Homo sapiens: one gene and its partners. The protein of the gene in region 3 interacts with the protein of the main gene of each other region in a biochemical or structural test. Each region holds a gene or a part of one and is shown on either strand. Other genes may lie near its edges. The genes, in order: MYO6, SKP2, CDH1 and YES1.

Evidence for each region.
Region 1: the proteins of CDH1 (region 3) and MYO6 form a complex in vitro, tested with the Homo sapiens proteins (one study listed by BioGRID).
Region 2: of the proteins of CDH1 (region 3) and SKP2, one has a biochemical effect on the other in vitro, tested with the Homo sapiens proteins (one study listed by BioGRID).
Region 4: the proteins of CDH1 (region 3) and YES1 form a complex in vitro, tested with the Homo sapiens proteins (one study listed by BioGRID).

The regions. Positions count from the first base shown.
Region 1 is NC_000006.12:75,885,239-75,892,238, forward strand, and holds part of MYO6 (unconventional myosin-VI), read left to right. Parts: intron 1-765; coding exon 766-856; intron 857-1,605; coding exon 1,606-1,756; intron 1,757-4,818; coding exon 4,819-5,027; intron 5,028-5,989; coding exon 5,990-6,068; intron 6,069-7,000. UniProt on the Homo sapiens protein: Myosins are actin-based motor molecules with ATPase activity. Unconventional myosins serve in intracellular movements. Myosin 6 is a reverse-direction motor protein that moves towards the minus-end of actin filaments.
Region 2 is NC_000005.10:36,162,094-36,169,127, reverse strand, and holds part of SKP2 (S-phase kinase-associated protein 2), read right to left. Parts: intron 5,484-7,034; coding exon 5,372-5,483; intron 2,610-5,371; coding exon 2,466-2,609; intron 816-2,465; coding exon 681-815; intron 1-680. UniProt on the Homo sapiens protein: Substrate recognition component of a SCF (SKP1-CUL1-F-box protein) E3 ubiquitin-protein ligase complex which mediates the ubiquitination and subsequent proteasomal degradation of target proteins involved in cell cycle progression, signal transduction and transcription.
Region 3 is NC_000016.10:68,817,266-68,824,299, reverse strand, and holds part of CDH1 (cadherin-1 isoform 1 preproprotein), read right to left. Parts: intron 5,021-7,034; coding exon 4,875-5,020; intron 2,300-4,874; coding exon 2,075-2,299; intron 1,852-2,074; exon of another isoform or gene 1,068-1,851; intron 902-1,067; coding exon 674-901; intron 1-673.
Region 4 is NC_000018.10:809,233-816,802, reverse strand, and holds the start of YES1 (tyrosine-protein kinase Yes), read left to right. Parts: upstream 1-4,560; 5' UTR 4,561-4,689; intron 4,690-7,570. UniProt on the Homo sapiens protein: Non-receptor protein tyrosine kinase that is involved in the regulation of cell growth and survival, apoptosis, cell-cell adhesion, cytoskeleton remodeling, and differentiation.

The DNA of each region.
Region 1 (7,000 bases), on a different chromosome or scaffold from region 3:
AAATGTTAAAACTGGCTGGGCGTGGTGGCTCACGCCTGTAATCCTAGCACTTTGGGAGGCTGAGGTGGGAGGATCACTTGAGGTCAGGAATTCAAGACCAGCCTGGCCGACATGGCAAAACCCTGGCTCGAATAAAAATACACAAATTAGCCCAGCATGGTGTGTGCCTGTAGTCCCACCTCACCTACTCAGGAGGCTGAGGCATGAGAATCTCTTTTTTTTTTTTTTGAGATGGAGTCTTGCTGTGTCACCCAGGCCGGAGTGCAGTGGCACGATCTCAGCTCACCGCAAGCTCCGCCTCCCGGGTTCACGCCATTCTCCTGCCTCAGCCTCCCATAGCTGGGATTACAGGCGCCCGCCACCATGCCTGGCTAATTTTTTGTATTTTTAGTAGAGACGGGGTTTCACCGTGTTAGCCAGGATGGTCTCAATCTCCCGACCCTACGATCCGCCCGCCTTGGCCTCCCGAAGTGCTGGGATTACAGGCGTGAGCCACCGCGCCCGGCCGAGAATCTCTTGAACCTGGGAGGTGGAGGTTGCAATGAGCCAAGATCATGCCATTGCACTCCAGCCTGGGTTGAGACTGTCAAAACAAAAACAAACAAAAAAGGTGTTAAAACTTTGTTTTTGATGTCTGATATATAATAATATGGTCGTCAAGATTTCATGTTTCTTGAGCATTACTTTGTGAAAATGAGTTTTTTTAATATATGTTAGATTTAAACTGAATAATTTTCTATCATTTTATTTTACTCTTACACATAGTGAAAAACAAAATAAAATATCGAGCTGAAGCCTGCATTAAAATGCAAAAAACTATTCGAATGTGGCTTTGCAAGAGGAGACACAAACCTCGGTAAGATGAATAGTTCCTAAAAAGAACTCTACAAAACCTAGTTACTGTAATACAAAATGACAATAAAGTCATAATAAAAAGCAGTTTGGATACTCAGGTTTTCTCATGTTCTTTGTAAAATGATGTATTAGTCTTTTATTTGTAATATTTATTTGAAGTTAGTTAATTCATTTATTACCTTATTACTTGCCTCATTCTATAAAAGGATTTGAAGTGGCATACAAAAATGTGTAAAGACTATAAAACAAGAAGTAAGTAGTTGAGAGAAGCTCTTTTATTCTGATTATTTTAGTTATTTGAGTTTCTTGATAATGTCAAGGTGACATTTTTTAAAAAACATCTCACTAATATGTTTACATAATTTTCAAGATTATCTGTAGGAATTACATTGTCCCATTATAAATTAGTGTATTTCTTATTTGAATCTTTCATTTTTAATTTACACTTTTAAAAATTGGAAGTCTGAATATCTCTATTGATCCATCACACCTTTTCAAAGAGACTAGATTAATTTCCTCTGTGATTTGAATTCTCAAAGTTGTAGAAGGCTTTAATCCCATTGACAGGCATCAGTGTCATTCACACTCATATTTGATTTTTTTTAGCCTTCAACAAGAGATCTGAAAAAGAGAATAGTAGATAATATTGAAAACAGAAGTGAAATACCCTGTTTAGCATTTTATAAATGAAAAATCTGCCAAAAGTACTAAAGGATGAAATTAAGCTCTAATGAAGTATTATTTTTACAGCATTGATGGTCTGGTTAAGGTGGGCACACTGAAAAAACGACTTGATAAATTTAATGAGGTAGTCAGTGTGTTGAAAGATGGAAAACCCGAGATGAATAAACAGATCAAGAATCTGGAAATTTCTATTGATACTTTGATGGCCAAAATTAAGGTATGTAATTTCAACCCGAATGACTTTGACTTTTTATGTAATTTAATATATTTTGTTATTGGTATTGAAATTGTATAGAAAACGTCCTTAGTTTTTCAAAATTACAAAATGTGTTGAGACTCAATGATGGCAAGTACATGCTCATCATTATTACCTCTACTCTTTATGTTTGAAAAATTTCATAGCAAAAAGTTAAAGAAGACAATTTTTATGCCATTTCTTCTGTTGCTAAGAAAGATATCCCTCGCAACTTAATACCTAGGTGATGGGATGATCTGTGCATCAAACCCACCATGGCACACGTTTACCTGTGTAACAAACCTGCACATCCTGCACGTGCATCCCTGAAATTAAAATAAAAGTTGGAGGCCATACATGGTGGCTCATGCCTGTAATCCCAGCACTTTGGGATGCTGAGGCGGACGGATCATGAGGTCAGGAGATCGAGACCATCATGGCCAACATGGTGAAACCCTGTCTCTACTAAAAATACAAAACTAGCTGGGTGTGGTGGCGTGCACCTGTAATTCCAGCTGCTTGGGAGGCTGAGGCAGGAGAATCGCTTGAACCTGGGAGGCGGAGATTGCAGTGAGCCAAGATTGTGCCACTGCACTCCAGCCTGGTGACAGAGTGAGACTCCATCTCAAAAAAAAAAAAAAATGAAAAAAGAAAACTAAAGTTGGAGCAAAAAGAAAATGGCCGGGCACGGTGGGTCACGCCTGTAATCCCAGCACTTTGGGAGGCCGAGGCAGGCGGATCACAAGGTCAGGAGATTGAGACCATCCTGGCTAACATGGTGAAACCTTGTCTCTACTAAAAATACAAAAAAAAAAAATTAGCCAGGCGTGATGGGGGGCACCTGTAGCCCCAGCTACTTGGGAGGCTGAGGCAGGAGAATGGAGTGAACCGGGGGGGCGGAGCTTGCAGTGAGCCGAGATCGCGCCACTGCACTCCAGCCTGGGTGACAGAGCAAGACTCCGTCTCAAAAAAAATAAATAAATAAAAATAAAAGTGGTGGGGCATGGTGGCTCCTGCCTGTAATCCCAGCACTTTGGGAGGCCGAGGTGGGCGGATTATTTGAGGTCAGGAGGTTGAGACCAGCCCAGCCAACATAGTGAATCGCCGTCTCTACTGAAAATACCAAAGTTAGCCAGGTGTGATCGCACGCGCCTGTAGTTCCAGCTACTTGAGGCAGGAGAATTGCTTGAACCCAGGAGGCAGAGGTTGCAGTGAGCCAAGATTGTGCCACTGCACTCCTGCCTCAGCGACAGAGTGAGACTACGTCTAAAAATAAATAAATAAATGATAAAAGTAATATAATACTATAAAAAATTTGGAGGCCAGATGTGATGGCTCACACCTGTAATCCCAGCACTTTGGGAGGCCCAGGCGCAGGGATCACCTGAGCTCAGGAGTTAGAGACCAACCTGATCAACATGGCCAAAACCTGTCTCCACCAAAAATACAAAAAATTATTTGGGCATGGTGGTATGAGCCTGAGGTCCCAAGGAAGCTGAGGTTAGAGGATTGCTTGAGCCTAGGAGATGGAGGTTGCAGTGAACAGAGATTGCACCACTGCACTCCAGCCTGGGTGACAGTGAGACCCCTGGCTAAAAAAAAAAAAAAATTGGAGAAACCACCAAAAACCTCTTAATACCTCCACATTAACAAATTCAGTTAGTTACTGTTATTTTTACAGTATAATTTTACTTGTTTTTACTTTACCTTACATTCTCTTTTATGCATACATTTTTACAGTTCTTATCATAATATACATTTCAATTTCTATCTCTACCATTGTTATATACTTGTCCATGTTAATACATTATCTTCATAGATACGATAATGTAATTAATTTTGTGAAAATAGCAATTTCCTCTCCAATTTTGTAGGAAAAAAATGGGATCCCTTATTTTGTTTTGATTTTTATTTATTTGATTACTAGTGGAGTTGAAGACTTTTCTATATGCTTGTTAATTATATTTCATATTTCATTAATTACATTTCATATCTTCTCATTATATTTTAGAGTTTTAATGCTTTTTCTCAGTTTCATAGGTCAGTGCAAGTATGTGGGATATAATGAATATCTTAAAGTGAGCGTTTTATATTTTCTGCAGATATTTTATGTAAACAATGGCAATCTTGGAGGTAGAAAGGAAAAAAAAGATCTGGAGGAAAATGAAAATGCTATAAATAGACTCAGCTGATTTTATAAATCTGTCAAGGGCCATCTTTGTTTATGTGGTATCATTATAAATTAAAATTAACCCACCCACATTTTTTGAAGGCTAATTTTAGAAATCCAATAATTTTGGATATATTTTGTAATTTTTAAAATATTCTCTAGGTACTATTTGAACATTATTCTAAAATAGTAGTAAACTATTGCTAAATTAGCTGATCATTACTTAAGAAATAATTCTTTTTGAGATAAGAGGCTTGCTCTGTTGCCCAGTCTGGAGTGCAGTGGCATGATCTCGGTTCACTGTAACCTCCGCCTCCCGGGTTCAAGCAATTCTCCTGCCTCAGCCTCCCGAGTAGCTGGGACTACAGGTGTGTACCACCATGCCCAGCTAATTTTTGTATTTTATTTTTATAAGAGACAGGGTTTCACTATGTTGGCCAGGCTGGTCTCGAACTCCTGACCTCAGGTGATCTGTCCACCTTGGCCTCCCAAAGGGCTGGGATTATAGGTGTGAGCCACTGCACCCGGCCTAGAAATAATTTTTAACTGCAGTATATTACCTTATCCACAGATTACCTGTCTAATTGATGTGTAATACTTGTGTGCAGAGATAACATAAAACATTTTTTGAATAGTATTTAATGTACAAACAGTATAGTAAAGATAACGGACGTATTGCTTACCATCTTACCTAGTTTTTGCTGTATTTGCATATTGGAGTAGTTTTTTATTTTAAATTGTAAAAAACAATAAAAACATTAAAATTTATCTTAGCCATTTTTCAGTTTATAATTCAGTATTGTTAAGTATATTCACATTGTTGTGCAACAGAAGAAATAAGCTTTTACGTACCTATTTATTTTATTTTTTAAAGTCCACTATGATGACGCAGGAACAAATCCAGAAAGAATATGATGCACTGGTTAAAAGCTCAGAGGAACTCCTCAGTGCATTACAGAAAAAAAAACAGCAGGAAGAGGAAGCAGAAAGGCTGAGGCGTATTCAAGAAGAAATGGAAAAGGAAAGAAAAAGACGTGAAGAAGACGAAAAACGTCGAAGAAAGGAAGAGGAGGAAAGGCGGATGTGAGGCATTTATATTATTTTGAATAAGAGACTTAAAGAAATAGTGAATTCTTGGTATTGACAGTGGTTAATGACAATTATTTGTTTTGTTTTGTTTTTGTGACAGGGTCTTGCTCTGTTGCCCAGGCTGGAGTGCAGTGGCGCGATCTTGGCTTACTGCACTCTGCCTCTCGGGTTCAATCGATTTTCCTGCCTCAGCCTCCTGAGTAGCTGGGATTACAGGTGCGCACCACCACGCCTGGCTAATTTTTGTATTTGTAGTGGAGACGGGGTTTCACTATGTTGGCCAGGCTGGTCTCAAACTCCTGACCACAGGGGATCCACCCGCCTCGGCCTCCCAAAGCGCTTGGATTACAGGCGTGAGCCACCGTGCTCGGTTGACAATTCTTAAAACTGTGTTCTTATTTTAATGAACTAATTTTGTAATAAGTTTGAAAATTGAGAGAATAAGGTCATTTTATAATAGTGATACCATAAAATAATTTTAACTATAATCTGAATTTGTTAGCCTCTTACACCTGAGGATTTTCTTCTTTTTAAAACTATGATTTGTTTATTGTTTTCTAAGCTAGATAAATGACACTTCTACTTTTCTGCAGTTTTAAAACTGATAACATTTTGAAAGATTGCCATGATAGGGTAGAGAGAACAGATGAGTTGTTGACTTGGAGAGGGACTAGAGGGAAGCACCTTTAATCAGGACCTTACAGCCAGGCTTTGTAACCACATTCATCTAGAGATGTTAAAAGTTATAGAATATAATTATATTTGTTTTATTTAAGAATTATTGTCAATAGAGTTAAATTTTATTTTATTCAAAATAAGTTGATGTATGTGGCCAGGAGGTTAATTTGCATTCCCAATCTGTTACCTTTGTTTATTATTAAATAATAGTTAAATTGCCTTCTGAAGGATTCTTTATTTTCTGTTAAATTTTTGAAGAGTTTTCTATTTTTTATTAGGAAACTTGAGATGGAAGCAAAGAGAAAACAAGAAGAAGAAGAGAGAAAGAAAAGGGAAGATGATGAAAAACGCATTCAAGTATGTACTTACTGGGTTGAATTTCTATTAAAATGGAACCTACAGGCTGGGTGTGGTGGCTCATGCCTGTAATCCCAGCTCTTTGGGAGGCCGAGGCGGGCGGATCACGAGGTCAGGAGATCAAGACCATCCTGGCTAACATGGTGAAACCCCATCTCTACTTATACGAAAACAAATTAGCCGGACATGGTGGTGGGCACCTGTAGCCCCAGCTAATTGGGAGGTTGAGGCAGGAGAATGATGTGAACCCAGGAGGCAGAGCTTGCAGTGAGCCAAGATGACACCACTGCACTCCAGCCTGGGCAACAGAGCGAGACTCCATCTCAAAAAAAATAAAAAATAAAAAATAAATAAAATAAAATGGAACCTATGAAAGAAGTGAAAATGAGATCTTGATTTGCTAGATAAGCTGTCACTAGTTTATCCTAGAGACCAAAGGCCAGTTTTTGAAGTGGTTATGGGAATGGACTTTGGAGCTAGGGAAGTGGGTTCAAATCCAAGATCAGTCACTGACAGAAATTGTGACATTGTACACATTATAGTGAGGAACTATGGGTCACAGTTGTCTCTCTGTAGAATGTGGATAAATAATAGTTGCAAGCATTTGACAGTTAATACATGTTAAAGCATTGTGAACACTGTGTAGATCAATAAATATTAATAATTGTTTTTATACCTAGGGGAAAGTCAAATGAAAATTCACTTAAAATGTTAAGTTTTAAAATATCATATAACTTTGTAGATACTGGAATTAATAAATTAGGATTAAGAGTCTCTCTCCACCCCTAGTTTTTAAAAAGTCCCATGTTGAGAATAAATTGCTCATGTATTTGAATTTCTGTTTGTCATGGCTTTCATAATATATCCTAAGCATAACCAAAACTTTAAATTCCTGACATCTGCTCTCTAGGTGTTAGTGTTAATGGGATGCC
Region 2 (7,034 bases), on a different chromosome or scaffold from region 3:
CTTCTTACAGCAAGGCGTAGGGGCCCATTACAATCTGGTCCCTGACTCTCCTCACCTTGTCACTCTCCTCCCTTAGTCCTGTGCTCCAGCAACTTCCAACTACGTAAGAGTTTAGAACCACACAGGAAGTTTTACCTAGACTGGTTGCTTTGTCTTATTACCTAGAGATCTCCTACCTAGATATCTTCAATACTCAAGAGTCACTTCCTCTAACAAGGCGGCTCCTCGTGTGTTGCCACATATTCACTGAAACATTTAATAAACACACTGCATGGTAATTATCTGTCTTGCTCATAAATAGTTTACCTTCTTGCAAGAGAAAATAGACATGTCTTGCTCAATGTTTCCTCTTGCAAGAAGGTAAACTATAGCTTAACCAGCATTCACTAACAAGGTGGGAAAAGTTTTAGAGCATTCATTTTCTTCCCAAATAATACACATGCATTGTTCATCCTTGTACTTGTATCTCTAGAACCTAGCACAGGGCCTGGCATATAGTTAGCATTCAAGCTTTTGTTGCTTCAATGAGTCCTGAAAAGTTTTGCAGAAGCTAGAGCACTGCACTAGATATTTTCTGTATCCACCTGGATATGGCTAGAAGGGCACCCCAGTTATATACAGGGAAAAAAATTCATACACATAAAATCAACTGCCTTTGTGACACTCTGCCTGCCACTCACTTGACAATGGGATCCGAAAGCCGCAGGCCTTCCAGGCTTAGATTCTGCAACTTGGAACACTGAGACAGTATGCCGTGGAGGGTGGACACTTCTATAACTGAGTTCGATAGGTCCATGTGCTGTACACGAAAAGGGCTAAACACGGAGAGAAAAAAGGAGCTCCATAGGTGGCTCTCACGGGTACATCCAATTTCAAACCAGACCCCTCTTCTCCCCAAATGAGCAGCCAATCACAAACAAGACTCTAAATACATACTTCAAGCATTAACTATAGGGTCATAAAACATATTGCTACTAGTGTATTCCCATCTTCATTCATTTTAAAATGCAAGAGGATTTTTGCCAAGTACAGATGTTGCTGCCAATATAGTCCCACTTAGAAAATAACGAGTGGGCATCACAACAATGAGCTGGATGTGGGTGACAAGGAGATTAAGACCATAACGGCTCCTGGTTTCTGGCAGGGGTGAGTGGGTGAGCAGCAATAGAACAGGGAAGGTAGCGGAAGAGAAAGTTTTAAAGGGAGACCAGGCTGGGCGCAGTGGCTCACGCCTGTAATCACAACACTTTGAAAGGCTGAGTCCAGTGGATCACGATGTCAGGATATCAAGACCAGCCTGGCCAGCATGGTGAAACCCAGTCTCTACTAAAAATACAAAAAATTAGTTGGGCGTGGTGGCGCACACCTGTAGTCCCCAGGTGCTCGAGAGGCTGAGGCAGAATTGCTTGAACCTGGCAGGCAGAGGTTGCAATGAGCCGAGATCACGCCACTGCACTCCAGCCTGGGTGACACAGCAAGACTCCGTCTCAAAAAACAAAAACAATAAAAAAAAAGGGAGGCCAAATTTGAGTTATGCTAATATTGAAGTCCTTGTAAGAAATTCAGGTACAGACGTTTTTAGGTAATTAGAAATTTGGGAATTTGAAAGGGAGGGCCAAGCTATAGATGAGGAACTGAGAGTCCTGGGCATAAATGTGGGTGTAGAGGACACAGCTTGTCCAGGGACAGCATTTGGATTTGAAAAAGGTGGCAGCCAGGAACCGACCCTGGAGTGAACAGAGGAAATCACATATGTGAAGGAGACTGAGAAGGAACAGCCACAGGAGGAACAGGATAAAAAGCAGTGGGAGAGGCGGTCCTGACTACGGAAAGAAGGGAAAAAGTACTGGAGTCAGGAGACATGTTTTATCTTTAGCTTTGTTGTCTTCAGCTTGTTTTTCTGTTCAGTACCTAGTTATTCTACTATGTGATAGCAGTAACCTCAGTATTGCAAAATTATCAGAACAGAAAATTCTTTTTCAAAATATTCTACAAAACAAACAAAAAGAGGGCATTTTTTTCAGGTTCCAAATTTCTCCAAGACAAAAATCATAAACCCCAAGCTACAAACATGAAAAGACTCCTCACTTTTTTTTATTTATCAGAAATGGGCATTGGGGAAGTAACTGGGCACCCTTGCATCTGCCAGTGAGTGCTTTACTTGTGCCTGCCTTGTGGGACTCACAGTCCCCCTATCAGCTGAGGACTTGAGAAGACAAATGTGCCTCTTTCACCCTGGGAAGAGACTAACAGTAAACTTGAGTGAAATGGGAACAGTGTCATTGAAATCTATGCTAGGTTTTAGCACAAAGGCCCCATAGCAAAGTATGGAATTAACATCCCACACTGCACAGATAACCTACCATAGGCTTTAAGGCTGAAGAAAGAAAAAAAAAAAAAAAGCTTTGATCTGTTTCTACCTCGAAATTTAGAAATAGTCTTTTCCAGGGATTTTTCATCTTTACCTGAAATGTTCAGCCAATGGTTGGTCCATAAATGATCGTGGGCAGCGGAAGGCAATCACCCCTTGAGACAGCAACCGACCAGTCACATCCGGGTGCAGATTTTTACCTGTGAGGTCTAAGGTCTGCCATAGAGACTCATCAGACCTATAAAAGAGGAGATACTTAATTTGGCCAGTCGGTCACACTAAATGCTGGAAGCCCTCAACAACATTACTAACAGGTAGGACACTGCTGCTAAATCTCCTTGAAGCATATTCTAAAAGAACTTTTGTTTTTAAGTTGGCTATACAATTAGCTATGATATTTTTAAGGCACTAGAGAATTTTTCTTGATTTCACCAGGGATAAGCTTCCATCTTTCTCTTTCTATATACTTCCAATTTAGATGGTTCAATGTGAACATTAGCACTGCCGTGATCTAGAACCAGAGAATCATATTCCAGCATTCAAGTTGACAAATTTAAAAAATGATTGCTCAAATCAATTAATTATTATATTACTAGGCAAATAGGATCCTCTAAGAAGTTTTAAATCTATTTGACACTTTTGTCAAGCAATTATGATTACTGTAGCAACATGGAAAATTACTAAAGGAACGAAAGTTAGCATTATTTTATTATGAAATAAGGCTGTCATAGATATTCAATAGCAACAGTCATGGTTCAGCTGTGCCTTATAATATATTTGAAGCTTAAAACATACACGTGTATATGTATGTGTACATATGTGTGTGTATGAACTAATGTGAAATAAGGGAAAAATACAACGGATTATAGATGGTGTTTCTAAAACAAAAGGGATGTTCTAAAAACGTACTGAATAGCACAGTAAGAGGGTTTTAATATCCATAGTTTAATTCAATTTAAAAAAAGAAAATGTGAAATATAAGCACATGAAGGAACATTTTAAATGCTTAGGTGTACTAGAATTTTCTTTTTTAATAGTGCTTGAAATAAGTGGACCACTGGCCAGAGTTATGAAATAACTTCATCATAAAAAAATTGTCAGTGTGATTTGTGTGACAAATCTATCATTAAAAAGGTGGACTGTAGATAAGATATCCTTAAGAGAGTGGCACACTTTTGTATCTTTCTTGCCCAGACAGAAATCCATTTTGGCCTCCAAGGTATTGGTATTGACACCAGATCAGCACTGCTCTGGTTGTCTTGAATCTCATGCTTGATGTTTCCTCTTGCAAGAAGGCAAACTATAGCTTAACCAGCATTCAATAACAACAACCTGGGAGAAGTTTTGGAACAATTCATTTTCTTTCCAAATAATATACATTTTTTAGGAAGATGAACACCTCACAGAAAAATGAATTTGGGAGCTACCTGAACCCTAAGCCAAGCATAACTAGATATGGTATGATGGTTAAGACCGTGGAGTTAGCCAAACTTTAGATTCCTGCCTTTCCACTTATCTCTCAACCTACTATTCCTGACCCTGCAGTTTCCTCACCTCTGAAGCTGAGATGACACAAACACCATCACTTAAAATCATATGGAGGATTAAATTGCAAACACTGCACCTGTCACAAAGCAAGTGCTTAATAAATGTCAGTAATTACTTTTATGACAACTGAGATGAAGTTTAACAGACTCTAAGGGAGATGTAGGTCAAAGAATACAAAGCCACAGATATGCAGGATGAACACATCCCAAGATATAGTATACAACAGGAGAACTAGAGTCGATAATACTGTATTGTAGTCAGAATGTTTGCTAAAAGAGTAAATTTTAGGTGCTTTTGCCACAAAAAATAGGTAACTATGTGAGATAATGAATATGTTAATGATAGCAGCCATTTCACATACTTATAACAAAATATCATGCTGTATACCTTAAATATATACAATAAAATTTTAAAATGGGATTAACAGACTCTGCAAGAAGAGGATAAATGCATAGCTGGCAGAAAAAGAAAACCAAAGTGGGGTTGAGTGCGGTGAGGGTAAGTGAAACTTGCCTGCCACTTGCACCAGCATTCCAGGTGTGCAACCCTCTCTGCGGCTCTTCTAAGCAAACAACCCACACCTGTAAATAGCAGCACGCCCTTGAAGGCAAGAGGCTCCTGCTATCTCACACAGGGAGTTCTAAGTATGTGGAGGGAGAAGCCAGACGGATGGCCTTTAAACACAAAGCAAAGAATGACCAGGAGGTAGGATAGGGATGAGAAGGCATGAAGATAGTAAAAAGTTCCAGTTGATAAACATAGCCTTTTTCTTGCTCCAGGCCTGTTATTGCCTTTCCAGCTCACCAAGTCTTTCCACATGCAACTCACCTTCCACACTTGAAAAGTGTTGCCAAAAAAAGAGCACAACCCCACCAATGGCTACTCTGTGTGGAACATGTCTGTGAGTCAGGCATTACACCAGCATCTTCACATTTCATCCTCATAACCAGTGGTTTCCTCCTCATAACCATTATCCCCATTTACATATGGGGAGACTGAGGCTCAGCAGTGTCAACTAACTCACTCAGGTCATGCAGAGCGTAAGCAGCAGAGGCTGGGTGTGCACTCGGGTCTAACACCAAGCCTGTGTTCCCTCTCCCTATTGTGCTCACTGCTCAGCCCAGCGGCGTGAGGAACCGCTGTCTGCATGCACCTCTGTAACTCTCTCCGCACTTAAAGCACACCGCCTGGCCTACAGTCAGCATCCCATAAACACATGCTGCACTGAATACAGGGCAAAGAGGTTTCCAGACATTGGTAAGTTTATCCCTCCCAGGAAATTCCTCTTCCACTGTGAAATGAGGACACTGATTAATAAAAATATGAAGATACCTAGTTTGCTTTGCGCTGCTCTATTTTTCTTGGTTTTTAGTTTCATCAGACCAAAACGAATAAATAACCTTCCTCTCCTCTTCCTCCCCTACGTTTGCCAAAGGGGTGAAAAATACTTACGCTAGGCGATACCACCTCTTACAAACACCAGAGACCTTTAGCAGCTCAGGGAGGCACAGACAGGAAAAGATTCCCAAGAGCAGCTCATCCGGAAGGGAGTCCCATGAAACACCTTTGGAGGGAAAACAAGTGTTTGCCATCACCATTCTTTCACCCTATCAAGTCTACTGAGTCTTTTCAAACACATAAAGAATATACAACATTTAGCTTAAATGAGGAATTTAGCACAAATTAAATTACTCATCCTCACAATTATTTTTGTTTGAAAAATCATTTCTGTTGAACAGAAAAATAATTGTGGTGATGAGTAATTTAATTCGTGTTAAATTCCCCATTCCATCATCTATGTACCCTGAAGTGACCACCACACTCTCTCAGCAAATCAAAAAGAGAAACCCAGAACACTTTTCCTATTCTTCCCTTCAGCTCTAGCCAGCCAATCGGAGGCTGTGGCATGAAGAGTGGTACAGAGCAAGTCCCACCCTCTCAAATGTCATTCAATGACATTGTCAATTCATTGACATCAATAAGATATTGTGGTGCTTCTGGGTGCAAAGGAAGGCCTTGTTTCTCTCTGATGTGGACTCAGTAGTGACCTTATTTAAAAGGCAAATAAATCTTCTTCCCTTTCTGCTATGGTTGGCTGTGTCCCCACCCAAATCTCATCTTGAATTGTAGTTCCCATAATCCCCATGTGTTGCGGGAGGGACCCAGTGGGAGGTAATCAAATCATGGGGACGGTTACCTGGTGATAACCGCCCCTGTAATTTGATGCTGTTCTGGTGATAAGTGAGTTCCCACAAGATCTTATGGTTTTACAAGTGGCTTCCCCGACCCCTTTGCTCTGCACTTGATGCCGCCATGTGGAGAAGGACGTTTGCTTCCCCTTCCACCAAGCTTGTACGTTTCCTGAGGCCTCCCCAGCCAGGCTGAACTGTGAGTCAATTAAACCTCTTTCCTTTATGAATTACCCAGTCTTGGGTATGTCTTTATTAACAACATGAGAACAGACTAATATGCTTTCTTTCAGGTTTACAAAAGGCACAGTTTACCTAAAAGAGCAATACAAAAGGGTATTGTCATTTCTTAATTCAACAAATATTTACTGAGCTCCTACTATGGTGCCAGGTATCATTTTAGGTGTTGGGAAGGAGTAGTAAATCAGACCCAAAACACTACCTTCGTGGGACTTCATTCCAGTAATGCGGAACAGATAATCACACATCAAAAAATAAGTACATTATATGATATAGTAAAATTGATCTGTGCTGTGCAGAAAAATTAAACAGGGCAAGGGAGAGAACAGAGAGTTCAGAGCAGATGTTATTAAGTTTGAACATGGTGGTCAGGGAAGGCCATACTGAGATGACGATCACTAAGCAAAGGCTTGAACAAAGTGAGGGAGTGAGCCCTGTGAGTATCTGGTGTACGTGTTCTAGATCCAAGGAACAGCATGTGTGTTTGAGGCATAGCAAGGAGGCCAGTGTAGAGCGCAGAGGTAGGTGGGTAGAAAAATCAGAGAGCAGCCAGGTCATGCAGGCTTCCTAGGTCATGATAAAGCCTTTGGCTTTGACGCTGAATTCTATGAGGCACCACTAGAAGATTCTGAGCACAGGAATGACAGGCCCTCACGTAAGTTCAAAAAGGATCACTCTGGCTGCTG
Region 3 (7,034 bases):
TCTGGCCGGGTGCGGTGGCTCAAGCCTGTAATCCCAGCACTTTGGGAGGCTGAGGCGGGTGGATCACCTGAGGTCGGGAGTCTGAGACCAGCCTAACCAAAATGGAGAAACACCGTCTCTACTGAAAATACAAAATTAGCTGGGCGTGGTGGCACATGCCCATAGTCCCAGCTACTCAGGAGGCTGAGGCGGGAGAATCGCTTGAACCTGTTAAGCAGAGGGTGCAGTGAGCTGAGATCACACCATTGCACTCCAGCCTCGGCAACAAGAGCGAAACTCCATCTCAAAAAAAAAAAAAAAAAAAAAAGAAATGCAGAATCTGTGGCCCTATGCCAGACCTCCTGGATCAGATTTCCCAGTTCAAAAAGAGGCCCAGATGATTTGTATGCTCTCAAGCTTGGGATGCACTGTCTTGAAGAATGAAAAGAGACAAGGTAGAAGAAACCTGGGTCCCCTGTTGACTTCATGGCCTTCCCATCTTAGACCATTTACCTCTGAAATGTTCAGTAAGAGACAAACTTCTATTTTATGGAGGCTGGCATAACTTGGGAGTCTCTTTCCCACATCAGCTAACCTATATCCTTATTAATATAAGAACAAAAATCATTTCCAGGAAATAAACCTCCTCCATTTTTTTAAGTCAAAGGCTGAGTCACTTGCCAGCTGGACTTACTTAGCAAAGCAAGAATTCCTCCAAGAATCCCCAGAATGGCAGGAATTTGCAATCCTGCTTCGACAGGCTGTGCCTTCCTACAGACGCCAGCGGCCCCTTCACAGTCACACACGCTGACCTCTAAGGTGGTCACTTGGTCTTTATTCTGGTTATCCATGAGCTTGAGATTGATTTTGTAGTCACCCACCTCTAAGGCCATCTTTGGCTTCAAAATGATAGATTCTTGGGCTGGAGAAAGCAATAAAAAGAAATGATGAGACCAGGGGAGGAAAATAAAAAGCTCATTCCAGAATAAAATTGCTAGTGAACTAAAGACACCCGCAAGCCGAGTGAAGAGAGCAGAGCTGCTTGGGTTTTATTTAGGTATGTACTTTTTTTTTTTTTTTTTTGCTGTAAAAAGCTTTATTTCCATTTGGTCTAAGGCTTGGGAGAGGGCTCTAGAGTTGGTTTAAAAAAGCTGCCTAGTGGCTGGAGGGAGAGGCTTAGGCAGAGCGGGGCTCTTCAGATGTCGCTGGGTTCGGTAGGCTCCCGTGTGCCTGAGGGTGAACCTTTTTGCCCAGCCCGGCCTGGAGGCCGGCTGGCCTGTGAAGGTTGGTCAGGTGGTCACCTATCTTCTTGATGAGTTTTACTTTTTCATCTAGGAAGTGGCTCTCCAGGAAGTCACAGATATGGGGGTCTGTGCAGGTGGAACCCAAGGCATGAAGATCCAAAAGGGTCCAGTTCAGGTTCTTCTCCAGGGCCAGAGTGACTTCCATCGCACCCAGGGTTTTACCCCATTCATCTTTACATGGCTTCTGGATGTCCGGGAAGACAGTGCGGCCGCCACACTGGTTTTGCATTTTCAAGGGACACTCAGCGCCCTTGTGCTTCTCCTTGGCCAATTTGTGGAAGAAGTGGTGCACACCTTCCAGATCCACATCGTCATGGTGGAAATAGAAGCCCAGAGAGAAGTAGGTGTAGGAAGCCCATATATGCAAATTGACCAGGCAGTTGACAGCTGCCTCCACCTCGGTAGAATAGTTCTGATGAATCTGGGAGCTCACGATTGGTTGGCAAGAAGGAGCTAACCACAAAAATGGTGTTGTTTGGTCCCAGGAGCAGGAGGTAGCAGAGAAGATGGTCCTGGTTGCAAGTGGAGAGGGGAGTGGAGGGTGGCTAGAGGCTGGGAGAGGGAGCCCTGCTTGGGTTTTAGATTACTGGGTAGCATGCTACAAAGTTAGATACCAGGAAAGGAAAAAGACCTTTGGAGCAAGGCCTCAAAGACAGAAGGGACAAGGAAGCAAGTATCAATGGAAGGGGTGACATCTAGAAGTTGAGAAGGGAAATTGAAAGGTGGGGATCTGGGGGAAGGGAAGCATGGCAGTTGGAGCAAAGTTGCCAAAATAAAACTCAGGTACCCACTTGGGTCGTTGTACTGAATGGTCCAGTTGGCACTCGCCCCGTGTGTTAGTTCTGCTGTGAAGGGAGATGTATTGGGAGGAAGGTCTGCATCAATGATGTTTATGACCTGAGGCTTTGGATTCCTCTCACAGAAGAATATAGTTCGAGGTTCTGGTATGGGGGCGTTGTCATTCACATCAGACAGGATCAGCAGAAGTGTCCCTGTTCCAGTAGCAACTGGAGAACCTAAGAGAAAATACACAGAAAATGTGGCAGCTTGGCAACAGTAATGAATCCCCATTGCCTTCCACCAGACCAAGTCTAGATCTTGTCCTGGCTCTTCAGTGGTCCCTCACCAGGCCCCACTCCACCCGCAGAACCTCCTGTCCCACCAATCCCAAAGGACCTCCACTCCCAGGTGGGCAGGTCTCTGGCCGTTTTACACAGACAACTTATTCCCACCTTGATAACAATTATTCAAGTTATTCCTCACACCAAGAACACACTCCTCCTTCTTCACATATCGTTATTCATTCACTGAATTTTAACTACTCCAAGAAGTCCTATTGCCTGCCTGTTGTTTCCCTAGTTCTCCTTTTTCTGCACTTTCCTGCCATTTGAGGTCATTAACAAAGCATTGAGTCTTTTTATTTATTTTAATTTTAAGCCTGACTAGAAGCTTAAAATCAAAGGGGATGAGTTGGGTCTTTTGAAGTCTCTGCAAATTGGTTTTCAAAATAGATTGGGGAGTTCACATACGCTTTTTTTTTTTTTTTTGAGGCAGAGTCTCACTCTGTCACCCAGGCGGGAATGCAGTGGCATGAACACAGTTCACTGCAGCCTCTACCTCCTGGGCTTAATCTCCCACCTCTGCCTCCCTAGTAGCTGAGACTACAGGCGCATGCCACCATGCTTGGCTAGTTTTTAAATTTTTTTTGTAGAGAGGGGGTCTTATCATGTTGCTCAGGCTGGTCTTGAACTCTTGAGCTCAAGTGATCCTCGCATCTTAGCCTCTGAAAGTGTTGGGATTATAGGCGTGAGCCACTGCGCCCAGCCCATCCACACTTCTGTTTGCATTTCTTTTATATCTTGACACAACACGGAGCATATGGTAGTAGGAAAAATTGGTACCCAGGGAACTATCATCAATATTAGTATACGATACGGATACAAAACAACAGAAGAATCCATCTCAAACCTATAAATAGATATGTCTAGATGGCATGACTGTAAATTTTTAAAACTTTTTTCTCATGTAAATTTTATTTTTTAACAATGAGCACACGTCATTTAAAATTAACTCAAGGAGGCCAAGCATGATAACTCATGCCTGTAATCCCAGCATTTTGAGATTATGGGCAGTATGTTGCCCAGGCTAGTCTTGAACTCCTGGCCTCAAGCCATCTCCCACCTCAGACCCCCAAAGTGTTGGGATTACAGGTGTGACCCTAGCACCCAGCCTATAAATGTATTTAAATACACAGAAGCAGTCTGGAAGGACCCACACCTAACTGATTTAACACCTAACTAATTTCACCCACATGGGTATTAACATTTTTCAGGTAAAGGAATTGAGGGACATAAAAATTAAACAGCAGGCCAGGCACGGTGGCTCACACCTGTAATCCCAGCACTCTGGGAGGCCAAGGTGGGCAGATCACAAGGTCAGGAGTTCAAGACCAGCTTGGCCAATATGGTGAAACCCCGTTTCTACTAAAAATACAAAAAATTAGCTGGGCGTGGTGGTGCACACCTGTAATCCCAGCTACTTGGGAGGCTGAGGTAGGACAATTGCTTGAACCTGGGAGGCGGAAGCTGCAGTGAGCCAAGATTGCACCACTGCACTCCAGCCTGGGTGACAGAGCAAGACTCTGTCTCAAAAAAAAAAAAAAAATTAAACAGCAAATCCAAGGTCACACAAGTATTAAGCTTTGGAAATGGATTGTAAACCATCATTACCTGGTTCCCTTAGGGAAGGAATAAAGAGTGAGTAGTGAAAAGTAAGTTCTGTTTGACCAAAATTACTTGAAAAAACAATTTTTTTTTTGGAGACAGAGTCTTGCTCTGTTGCCCAGGATGGAGAGCAGTGGCGCAATCTTGGCTCACTGCAGCCTCCACCTTTCAGACTCAAGCAATCCTACCACTTCAGCCTTCTGAGTAGCTGGGCCTACAGGTGCTCACCAACACACTCAGCTAATTTATGTACTTTTTGTAGAGACAGGGTTTTGCCATGTTACCCAGGCTGGTCTTGAACTCCTGGGCTCAAGTGATCCTCCCACCTCAGCCTCTCTAAGTGCTGGGATTACAGGTGTGAGTCACCGTGCCCAGCCCACTTGAATTTTTGATAATAAGAATGCCTTTGTTTAAGAATAAAAGAGAAATCTTTTGCAGCAACATGGATGAAACTGGAGGCCATTGTCTCAAGTGAAACGAATCAGACATATAAGGAGAAATACTGCATGTTCTCACTTAGAAGTCGGAGTTCGATAATGTGTACACATGGATGTAGATTGTGGAATGATAGACAATGGCAGCTGGGAAGGGTCCAAGGGGTGGGAGGGGGTAGATGATGAACAATTACTTAATGGGTACAATGCATGTTATTTGGGTGACGGATACCCTAAAAGCCCTGACTTTACCACTACACATCTATGCATGTAACAAAATTACCCTTGTACTCCATACATTTATACAAATCAATCCAGCAAACAAAAAGGATAAAAGAAAAAGAATGAACTCTTCCCTCCAAAAGAAGGGAGGGGCAAGGAACTGAACTAGCTAGGAGGTCGAGGCAGCAAAGGCTCAGATGAGGCCCCCTTACCATTGTCTGTAGCTATGATTAGGGCTGTGTACGTGCTGTTCTTCACGTGCTCAAAATCCTCCCTGTCCAGCTCAGCCCGAGTGGAAATGGCACCAGTGTCCGGATTAATCTCCAGCCAGTTGGCAGTGTCTCTCCAAATCCGATATCTGAACGGGGACAAGCTCTGGCTTTTAGAATAGGACCAGCAAACAACATGTAGCTGAAAACGGCTTAAGCGCTTCTTCAGTTATATGGTTACTTCCAACGTTTTTATTTTGAAAACCAACAATAGGCCGGTCGCGGTGGCTCATGCCTGTAATCCCAACACTTTGGGAGGCTGAGGTGGGCAGATCACCTGAGGTCAGGGGTTTGAGACCAGCCTGGTCAACATGGTGAAACCCTGTCTCTACTAAAAATACAAAAATTAGCTGGGTGTGGTGGCACACGCCTGTAATCCCAGCTACTGGGGAGGGTGAGGCAGGAGAATCGTTTGAACCTGGGAGATGGAGGTTGCAGTGAGCCGAGATTGCACCACTGCACTCCAGCCTGGGCAACAAAAGTGAAACCCTTTCTTTCTTTTTTTTTTTTTTTTTTTTTGAGACGGAGTCTTGCTCTGTAGCCCAAGCTGGAGTGCAGTGGCGCGATGTCGGCTCGCTGCAAGCTCCACCTCCTGGGTTCACACCATTCTTCTGCCTCAGCCTCCGGAGTAGCTGGGACTAGAGGCGCCCGCCATCACGCCCGGCTAATTTTTTTGTATTGTTAGTTGAGACGCGGTTTACACCGTTTTAGCCAGGATGGTCTCGATCTCCTGACCTCATGATCCGCACGTCTCGGCCTCCCAAAGTGCTGGGATTACAGGCGTGAGCCACCGCGCCCGGCCGAAACTCCGTCTTTAAAAAAAAAAAAAAAAAAAGAAAACCAAGAAAACCAACAATACAACAGACAAGTTACTATAATAGTATGATGACCATCCATGAACTCTTCACCTGAGTTTACTCATTGTTAATACTTTGCCACATCTGCTCTGTCTATATTGACACACGCCTACATAATTTCTTGTTCTGCTGAACCATCTGCAAATAAATTGCAGAAGTCATGTTCCTTTACTTATAAATATGTCAATGTGTTATCTCCTAAGAACAAAGGCATTCTGTTATATAACCCCAATTTGATTTTCTTTTTTTTTCTTTTCTTTTTTTTTTTTTTTGGGACAGAGTCTCGTTCTGTCGCCCAGGCTGGAGTACAGTGGCGTGATCTCAGCTCACTGCAAGCTCCACCTCCCAGGTTCATGCCATTCTCCTGCCCCAGCCTCCTGAATAGCTGGGTCTACAGGCACCCGCCACCACGCCCGGCTAATTTTTTGTATTTTTAGTAGAGACGAGGTTTCACCATGTTAGCCAGGATAGTCTCGATCTCCTGACCTCAGATGATCCACCCATCTCGGCCTCCCAAAGCACTGGGATTGCAGGTGTGAGCCACCGTGACCAGTCTTGATTTTCAATTTTAGGAAACAAAACTTTGATAGAATTCTATTGTCGAATATATGGTGCATATTCGAATTGTCAGATTTTCCAAAAATGTCCTTTATAGCAACCTTGCACCCTTCTGGATTCAGGATCCAATATGGCCTTTCGTTGGCATGGCTCTTCCTTAGGTCTTTCTTTTCTGTCACTGACATTTTTGAAATGTGCTGGCCGTTGTTTTGTAGCATGCCCCTTAACTTGGGTTTGTCTGATTATTCCTCAAAATTTAGATTCAGGTAATCCATTTCAGGGGTCGGTGGGGGCAAGAACAGGACAGAGGTGATGCTGTGGCCTCCCTAGTGCAGGACACTGGGAGGCACATGATGTCTGTCTGTGCTTCTATTGATAACTTTGATCACTTGGATAAGGGAAAGGCCACCAGATTTCTTCACAGCAAAGGTGCCTTTTTTCACTGCATGATTAACCTATAATCTGCAGGTAGATAATTTGAGAATATCTTGTTCAGCAACTAATTTTCACCCAATGGATTTGGCATCTGTGGATGATTCTTGCTGAAGCAATGATTACTATAATCCTTATTTATTTTTAAAAGCAGACTCCTGCAGACCAGCTCCCCCAAACAATACAGTAGTTCCTAAATGGTGGCAACATGCCACCTCCTCTCCTGTCATGAACATCTGGAGATGCAGGTTGCCCT
Region 4 (7,570 bases), on a different chromosome or scaffold from region 3:
AATGGTTTTCAATGTATTCTAACTCCAGTTTTGCAGTGGCTGTTGCCTGAATTGTGTTGAGGATTCTGAGGATGGTATTAATGCTCTGGGGGAGAGTATATGCTATGCCATGGTCTAAAAGCCATGACTGCCATGGGCAAGCAGGAGGAGAGACTGACCTGCCAGCTCTGTTCTAGGTTTGGGGTCTTCTATGTGACAAAAGTCACAAGTCTCAAGTCTCAGTGTTGGGGTCCCACAATCTCTTATCTCCCACCTCTGGCTGTGCCTGCTTCATCCTCTGTGAAAACTGGATTCCCCATCCCACTCCCACTGCCTCTCCAAGCACGTGGCAGGAGATGCCACCCTCACAGCTCCTGAGTTTACTGTTGGCTGCACAAGTAAGTAGCAAAGACTAAGTAATGGTTTTCATTTGCAAAGAACAAAAATGGTCTCTATTGAAGCATAAAGGGAATTTATTGGAGGATGGTGAGAATCAACAGGAAGACTAGAGGAGCAGGCTCAGGCAGGAAGCAAGGAAGGCAAGACAAAGTCCAGGTTCTGCCACGGGGATGGTATGCTCATGACGCAGGCACCACCAGCACTGGAATCCTCTACCCCTGGACACTCATCTTCTGTCATTTGACTCAACTCCACCATGGTTACCATGAATAATCACTAACCGAGTTACTTTTGTGTTACTCCTCAAAATTCAAACTTTCAGCCTAGAACCTGGGATTAGCAGTACTCAGATCATAGGCCTACATGCCACCTATCGAAGAATTAATTCTCAGAGAAGAGGAACTTGAGTTAAACAGGCACCCTCAAGAGGTGTCCACTACAGGCTGTATTCTACTCGGCAGAGGGCATGTAAGAGGATGTAAGGTGCTCATCTGGCCTAGAAACTGCTGTCACCAAACAGAGTGAGAAACCAAGCTGAGCCTATGAAAGTCTGAAGCTGTGGGTAAAGCTACCTAGGAATAAGCAGAGTGGTACCAGAAGCTAGAGCTGAAACCAGGGACTTTGGTAGATAAAACAGGCCTGGGTCAAGCTGCAGAACTAGAAAGAATTGAAGTCAGAAATAAAACAAGAGATGTCCCCAAAGTAGATTCCAGTAGCAAAGACTATACTGCCAGAAAATAGTTCTGGAGCGGAGAAGGCATACTCAGCACAGGGTTAAATTCTAAGATTGTAAACCAGGTAGTGAAGAAGTGAAAAGCTAGAGAGAGCAACAAAAGGGAGCAAGATGGAGACAGACTTGCTGAAGTTCATGTAAGATTGCCATGTTTGACATTTATTAATTGCAAGACACATTTGATTGACAAATATTCATTGCAGGATATGTCCTTCTATATCCATTTATTTATTTATTTATTTATTTATTTTGAGACGAAGTTTTGCTCTTTCACCCAGGCTGGAGTGAAGTGGCATGATCTCAGCTCACTGCAACCTCTGCCCCCGGGGTTCAAGCAATTCTCCTGCCTCAGCCTCCCGAGTGGCTGGGATTACAGACGCATGCCACCATGCCTGGCTAATTTTTGTATTTTTTTTTTTTCAGTAGAGACAGGGTTTCAACATGTTGGCCAGGCTGGTCTCAAACTCTTGACCTCAGGTGATCCACCCACCTCAGCATCCCAAAGTGCTAGGATTACAAGCTAAGCCACCGCGCCTGGCCCTCAATATACATTTACTTAGGTCGCTTAGACAGTCTTTTCCCAGTTGAGGGGAAATAAAACTGTAATATAGAAACCACAGTCCTTGAGGCAATGAAGACATCAGGAGCATTGAGAACTTGATGAGTTGGTGCATTTCTCCACTGAGCTTGGCACAATAGGCCCAACACTCAAGGAGAAATACCTTCCTTTTTCCTGATCTTCCAAATTAATCCTTAGAGAGGGGTTCTCATATTCTTCCTAACTGGGCATAGGAGCAGTCTTGGCCAGGTGGAGGCGGCAAAGCTAAGGTGGTGCAGACAATGTCAGGCACTGAATGGATTTGAGGAAGGTGGTGAGGGGATGGTTGTTAGAAAAGAGGCACCTTGTGTAGGGCTGCAGGCTTTTTTACTGTTACCAGGAAGAGAAAATCATCATAGCCTCAGTGGCGGAAGCAGCAGCAGCAGCATATCACTGATAGCACGTAGGAGAGGTTTACCCTAAACAAAAACATTTCCTGGTAGAATCACAGGTTCCAAGGTGGTACTGAGTGGGCCCTAGTTCAACTTTCAGCTTTTCAAACTTCCAGCCAAATAATTTTAAGCATTAATCAACTTACATAAATGAAAGCATTTTACTTTTATAGGGACCTAACATATCTCATAAAGTTTGTTTGTTTAAAGCTTTCCCCTAGCTTTTTCCTCCAGCAGACATTTCCAGGGGTTTCAAGACTTAAGTTCCTTATCACTCCCTAACACACATGTACATACCACACCTCTATGCTGTGCAGGAGGGAAAAGTAGGGGCAAGCTTATTTGTCCGTTTCAGGATGAACAGATTAAAAGCAATTTTTGTTACACCAAACTCAGTAAGACTTTCCAGTTTTCTCTTCCTCATTAAAAAATTTTTTAAAAAATATTCCTGGAAACAAGTGAGCCACTAAATGTAAGATTGAAAACTTTCCAGGTTATTTACAGACTGAAGTTTGACATTGATGAATATACTAAAAAAGAAATCAGGGAATGTAGTAATAAAAAAAAAAAGGGAGGGCGAAGAGAAGCAAACTCAGTAAGTCAATGTAATCCATAACTTGTAGGTGACATTCTGACATACTCTCCCAACTTTAAAACTCCATATAGAACATCTTCAAAGCCACCTTACCCCTTAAACTGGGGCAAACTACTATTTCATTTCATTATTATTTTTTAAAATATATTTTACTAAATAGATAGGAGGTCTCCCATGTTGCCCAGGCTGGTCTCCAACTCCTAGACTCAAGTGATCCTCCTGTCTTGGACTCCCAGAATGCTGGGGTTACACGTGTGAGCCACTGTGCCCGGCCTATTTTAGAGGTGATTTTTGAGACTGAGTGTTTAGGAAGACGAAATTATCTCTATTTAGTGAAGAAAGGCAACAGCTCAAGGAATTTTCTATTTTAATAAAAGCTGAATATAGACCTACATAAAATTTTAAAGCCCTGAGACAGTCAATGACAAATGAAGTTTTAGTAGCTAAGAAAATACAGCATCGTTCCACATTATGTGTCTCTTTAACGCCTACGCCTACCTTTCGTTCATTTAGTGAGCTGAAGAAAAAAATGTTCAAACCCTTATATGCATTTCCTTAAGTTCCTAGAATACCGGAATACTGACACATATGATTGCACTATTTCCTATCCGTCGAAGATGATTCTGAATTTCACTAAAAACCGCAAAGGAAACCAATAGTCACAAAATAATTCTGATAACCCCACCAAAGAGGAAATAAAGAGAGGAAGTTACTCTAAAAGTCTGATAGGGCAAAAGTGACTGCAGCAGAAGGGCCTCAAGGTTCAGTCCATGAGGACCTTGATTAACCTTCATCTTTACGCCCCCACCCCATCCTTCCGGGTCCTCCCCCTTCTTCAACGACTGGCTTTACAAGGCTCATAGGAAAGGTGCGTGTATTCAGACGGACACGATTCCAGCTGTGGCTCCTCCACTTTCAGGGTCGCTGTTTCCACAGTTGACAAGCAGGAGAACCATACTTGTTGCACTTCCCTCACTGGGCTGCCGCCAGCATCATATAGAAAAACGCTGTCCCAACATAAGCCAAAGCCACCATGACTGGGATAGTCGCCAAACAGAACTCAGCTTCGGTTCCCCTCCCGGCAAGGCTGGTTCGACCTACAGTCAACAGGAAGCTCCTGGGGGCAGGGACAGGATCCCTGCCTCGGAAGGAGGCAAGACGTGAACGTTTTTTGGACGGCGATCAGGATGGTGATGAGGGTGTGAGTAACGCCCCCGGCTCACGCGGTTGGGCTTGAGATTTTACTACCAACGACAAAGGGTGCGGAAGCGTAGCGCTGAGAAGCAAACAGCCAACCAAAAAAACTCAACCCCGTCCTCCCCCACAAAAGCAAGCCCCAAAGCCCTGGCCACTACTGAGAGCTGGGCCAAGGAACAGAGAAAGGCAGAGGGGCAGAATCGGAGCGCTCCATTCAATCTCCGCGGCAGCCGAGCGTCGGTGGGTTCGCGGGTGGGAAGGGACGCCGCGGGCCTGCTCTCCGGGCAGGGAAGCACCTCCTCCTCACGCCCCCTCGGCCTGCACCGCCCCCGGGAATCCGCCCCGGACCCCGCCGCCATGTTGGGTCGGGAGAAGTGACACGGACCGGTCGCCTATCCTGACCACAGCAAAGCGGCCCGGAGCCCGCGGAGGGGACCTGACGGGGGCGTAGGCGCCGGAAGGCTGGGGGCCCCGGAGCCGGGCCGGCGTGGCCCGAGTTCCGGTGAGCGGACGGCGGCGCGCGCAGGTACCCGCAGCCCCCGCCCCCGCTAGAAGTCAGGGGGCGGGGCCGGGGGGGGGGGGCGGAGGAGGTGGAGAGTGAGGCCGAGGCGTGGGGAGCCCGGGAACTCCCTCCTCCTGAAGTAACGCGTCCCGGGCCGGCTCTGCCGTCGTTGCTGCCGCCGGGCGCCCCGGGACGAGGAGGTGGAGGAGGGAGAGGGCCCGCGGGCCTCGCCTCCGCCCTCCGCCACCTCGAGCTGCGGTAGCAGCGACTCATGAGAGCGCGGCCGGAGGACAGGTAAGGACCCGGTGGGGCCCCGCGGGCGGAGGGTTCCACCTCTGCCCGGACAGGGCTAGGCCCCAGCGCCCGGAGCCGCCGCCGCCGCCGCCGCCGCGGTTCCCCGCCCCCGCGGGCCCGAGTCGGGAAGTTGGGAAGAAACTTCTCCCCTCCCCCGGATCGCCCGGCGGGCTTGTCTCGTTCCCCGCGCTACCTGCTCGCCCCTGACTCGGTCTCTGCCCTGTCCAGACCTGCCGGGTCCCGCCCAAGTCCGACCTGAGGTTCCAGGGGCGTGGGGACACTCCCCACCCCTTGTCTTTGGGGTCGTGTGGACCGCCCGGCGACGGGGAGGAGAGGTTTATTTTTGCCCCTACGGCCGAAGTAGGGGCGAGGGAAGCGGCCCCTTTGGGTCCTAAAGGCTGGGGGTCTGTGTATCGGCCGACGCCGGTAGCAGCTGTGCGGGGAGAGGAGCGGGTGTGTGGGGCGAGTGGATGAGCCTTTCTGGCTTTACTTGGTTTGATTGAAAACCGCAACATGTTTAAAGTTTTCCTTTGTTTTGGGTTGGGGGTTGGGAAATTTACCATTCAGCGTCCACTTTTACGGAATCATGCCACTCCGCCTCCCGTTGCGTTCGGTTCCCTGTCCACATGTGTTAAAGAAAATTGTCTTAAAGTGTGTTTTTCTTCTTGATAATTGCTTCCAGCTTTCACTTTATTGGGCATGGGGCAGAGCTGTTTTAAGAAGCTCTTTGAAAATCAAGTCTGGTGTAGGGACTTTAGTTTTTGTTTTGTAATGAGTAGGACTTAACAGTTCGGATTTGGTTGAATCATTTTCTGCATAATTAATTGATACAGGCGTGGAATAACATACTGTATAATTATAAATTACTAAAGGAAATAATGAAAGTCTTTGGTGGAAGCACAATTTTATGTCCATTTATTATGTATATACGTTCCACGGGTGTGTGTTTTCACAGTCGATTTCACATGATATGATTATAGTATCTTCATGTATTATAACTGTAAGATTACAGTGCCAAAGATACCTTGATAATTTTAAATATTTAAACCATCCTGTTACACTTCTAAAGTTAAATTACGCACTAAGGAAAGTATTACTAAATGTATACACGTGACTGTGCATTTAAGGAAAAGTGCATGGTAAATCTAATATCTTAACTATCACAGTGCTTGGCACACGGTGGACAGGAAGCATTTTGAATGGTCAGGTAATAAAGGAGTATCTTGTATTAGCCAAGGATCTTGTATGCATCACTTACGATGTTCATATATTGTACAGTAAGAAAGTTTTACTTTAGCAAATAATATATATGGTTTTTTGGTTTTTGTTTGTTTGCTTATAAGTGTGAGACCCCTGCCACAATTGACATGTAAGGAAAGGAAGTTAAATTGTATTTTTATTTTTGGACATTAGCTAAAAGTCGGTGGAGATTTTAAATGCTGGTTGACAATTCAGAGGGTCCTACATTTGAAAAAGACAATTGCCTTTGATCTGAAAACAAAACAGTTTATATCCATGTTTCCAGGATAAAAGATAAAAGGGCTCTTAAAATATATACTCTGTTGTAACCACTGTAATGTTATAATGGCTTTAATTTCGTAGTTAGGTTTTGCTGACTTCATAAACCACAAAATTGATTCCTTTCTGTTCATCTGAAAGTGAAATTACAGCTTTGACCTGTCTTCCTGGGTTAGGTGGAATTTGTCTTGTGGTCGAAGTATAATATTAATACATGGGCTGTTTTTGTGTGTGTGTTTTAGTTCAGGAAATTCACAAGCTGAAAAATTAATGTCTATGCAAGTAAAATTTCTTCATGGTATGTATTGATAAAAGAATAAATGTGCTAAAAGACTAGAAGTAAACCTGTATAAGTGAAATATTACCAACCGATGGTGTAAGACTTACTTATTCAAAGTTGAAATTTGCATCATGTTAGACAGTAAATGATTTACTACTATGGCTAGTTTTTCTTTACAAAATCAGTGTAGACATCGTTTATTCTATTAGCATTATAGTAAGAAAGAAGACTAATGCCAAAACAATTTTTTAAGTGATGCTAAGCGCTGGGGTCACCCAAACTTGGGTAATTAAAAAAAAAAAAAAACCTGCAAGGAAATTCTGTGAACGTAAAAATAGAAGCATAGAATACCTGTGGTTCTATGAAGGGAAATATATGGGAAGAGGGAGGAGATTGTGATAGGGACCTGGCTTCTGAAGTGGTGACAAAGTTCTTTTAACCTGGTAGGAGTTACCAAGGGTATTGGTCTTAGTGTAATTCATTAAGCCCTACGTTTGTGTGCAGAATCTGTTTCTATGTTTTATTTTACATGAATTTGTTGTTGTTTTTTTAAGGAATCCAGTGTGTAATGTCTATATAAGGTGCTTGGTTTAAGAACATAACTTGGTGGCTGACTTTCGAACACTACCTAGGCTATCCTTTGCAAATAGGATTAGATTTATTAAATCATAATTGTCATATACCAGCTGTATGTATAACTACTTTGAACACGTCAGGCTGGGCACGGTGGCTCACACCTGTAATCCCAGCACTTTAGGAGGCAGAGGGAAGGGGATCACTTGAGGCCAGCAGTTTGAGACCAGCCTGGCCAACGTGGTGAAACCCCATCTCTACTAAAAAGTACAAAAATTATCTGGGTGTGGTGGCGCGCCCCTGTAATCCCAGCTACCTGGGAGGCTGAGGCACGAGAATCGCTTGAACCCGGGAGACAGAGATTGCGGTGAGCTAAGATAGTGCCAGTGCATTGCAGCCTGGGCAACAGAGTGAGACTGTCTCCAAAAAAAAAAGTCAAATACTCCGAAATGTACAATAATTAGAGAATTTTTGGGAAAAAATTTCTAAATAAAGTTCTAGTTCGTTTTC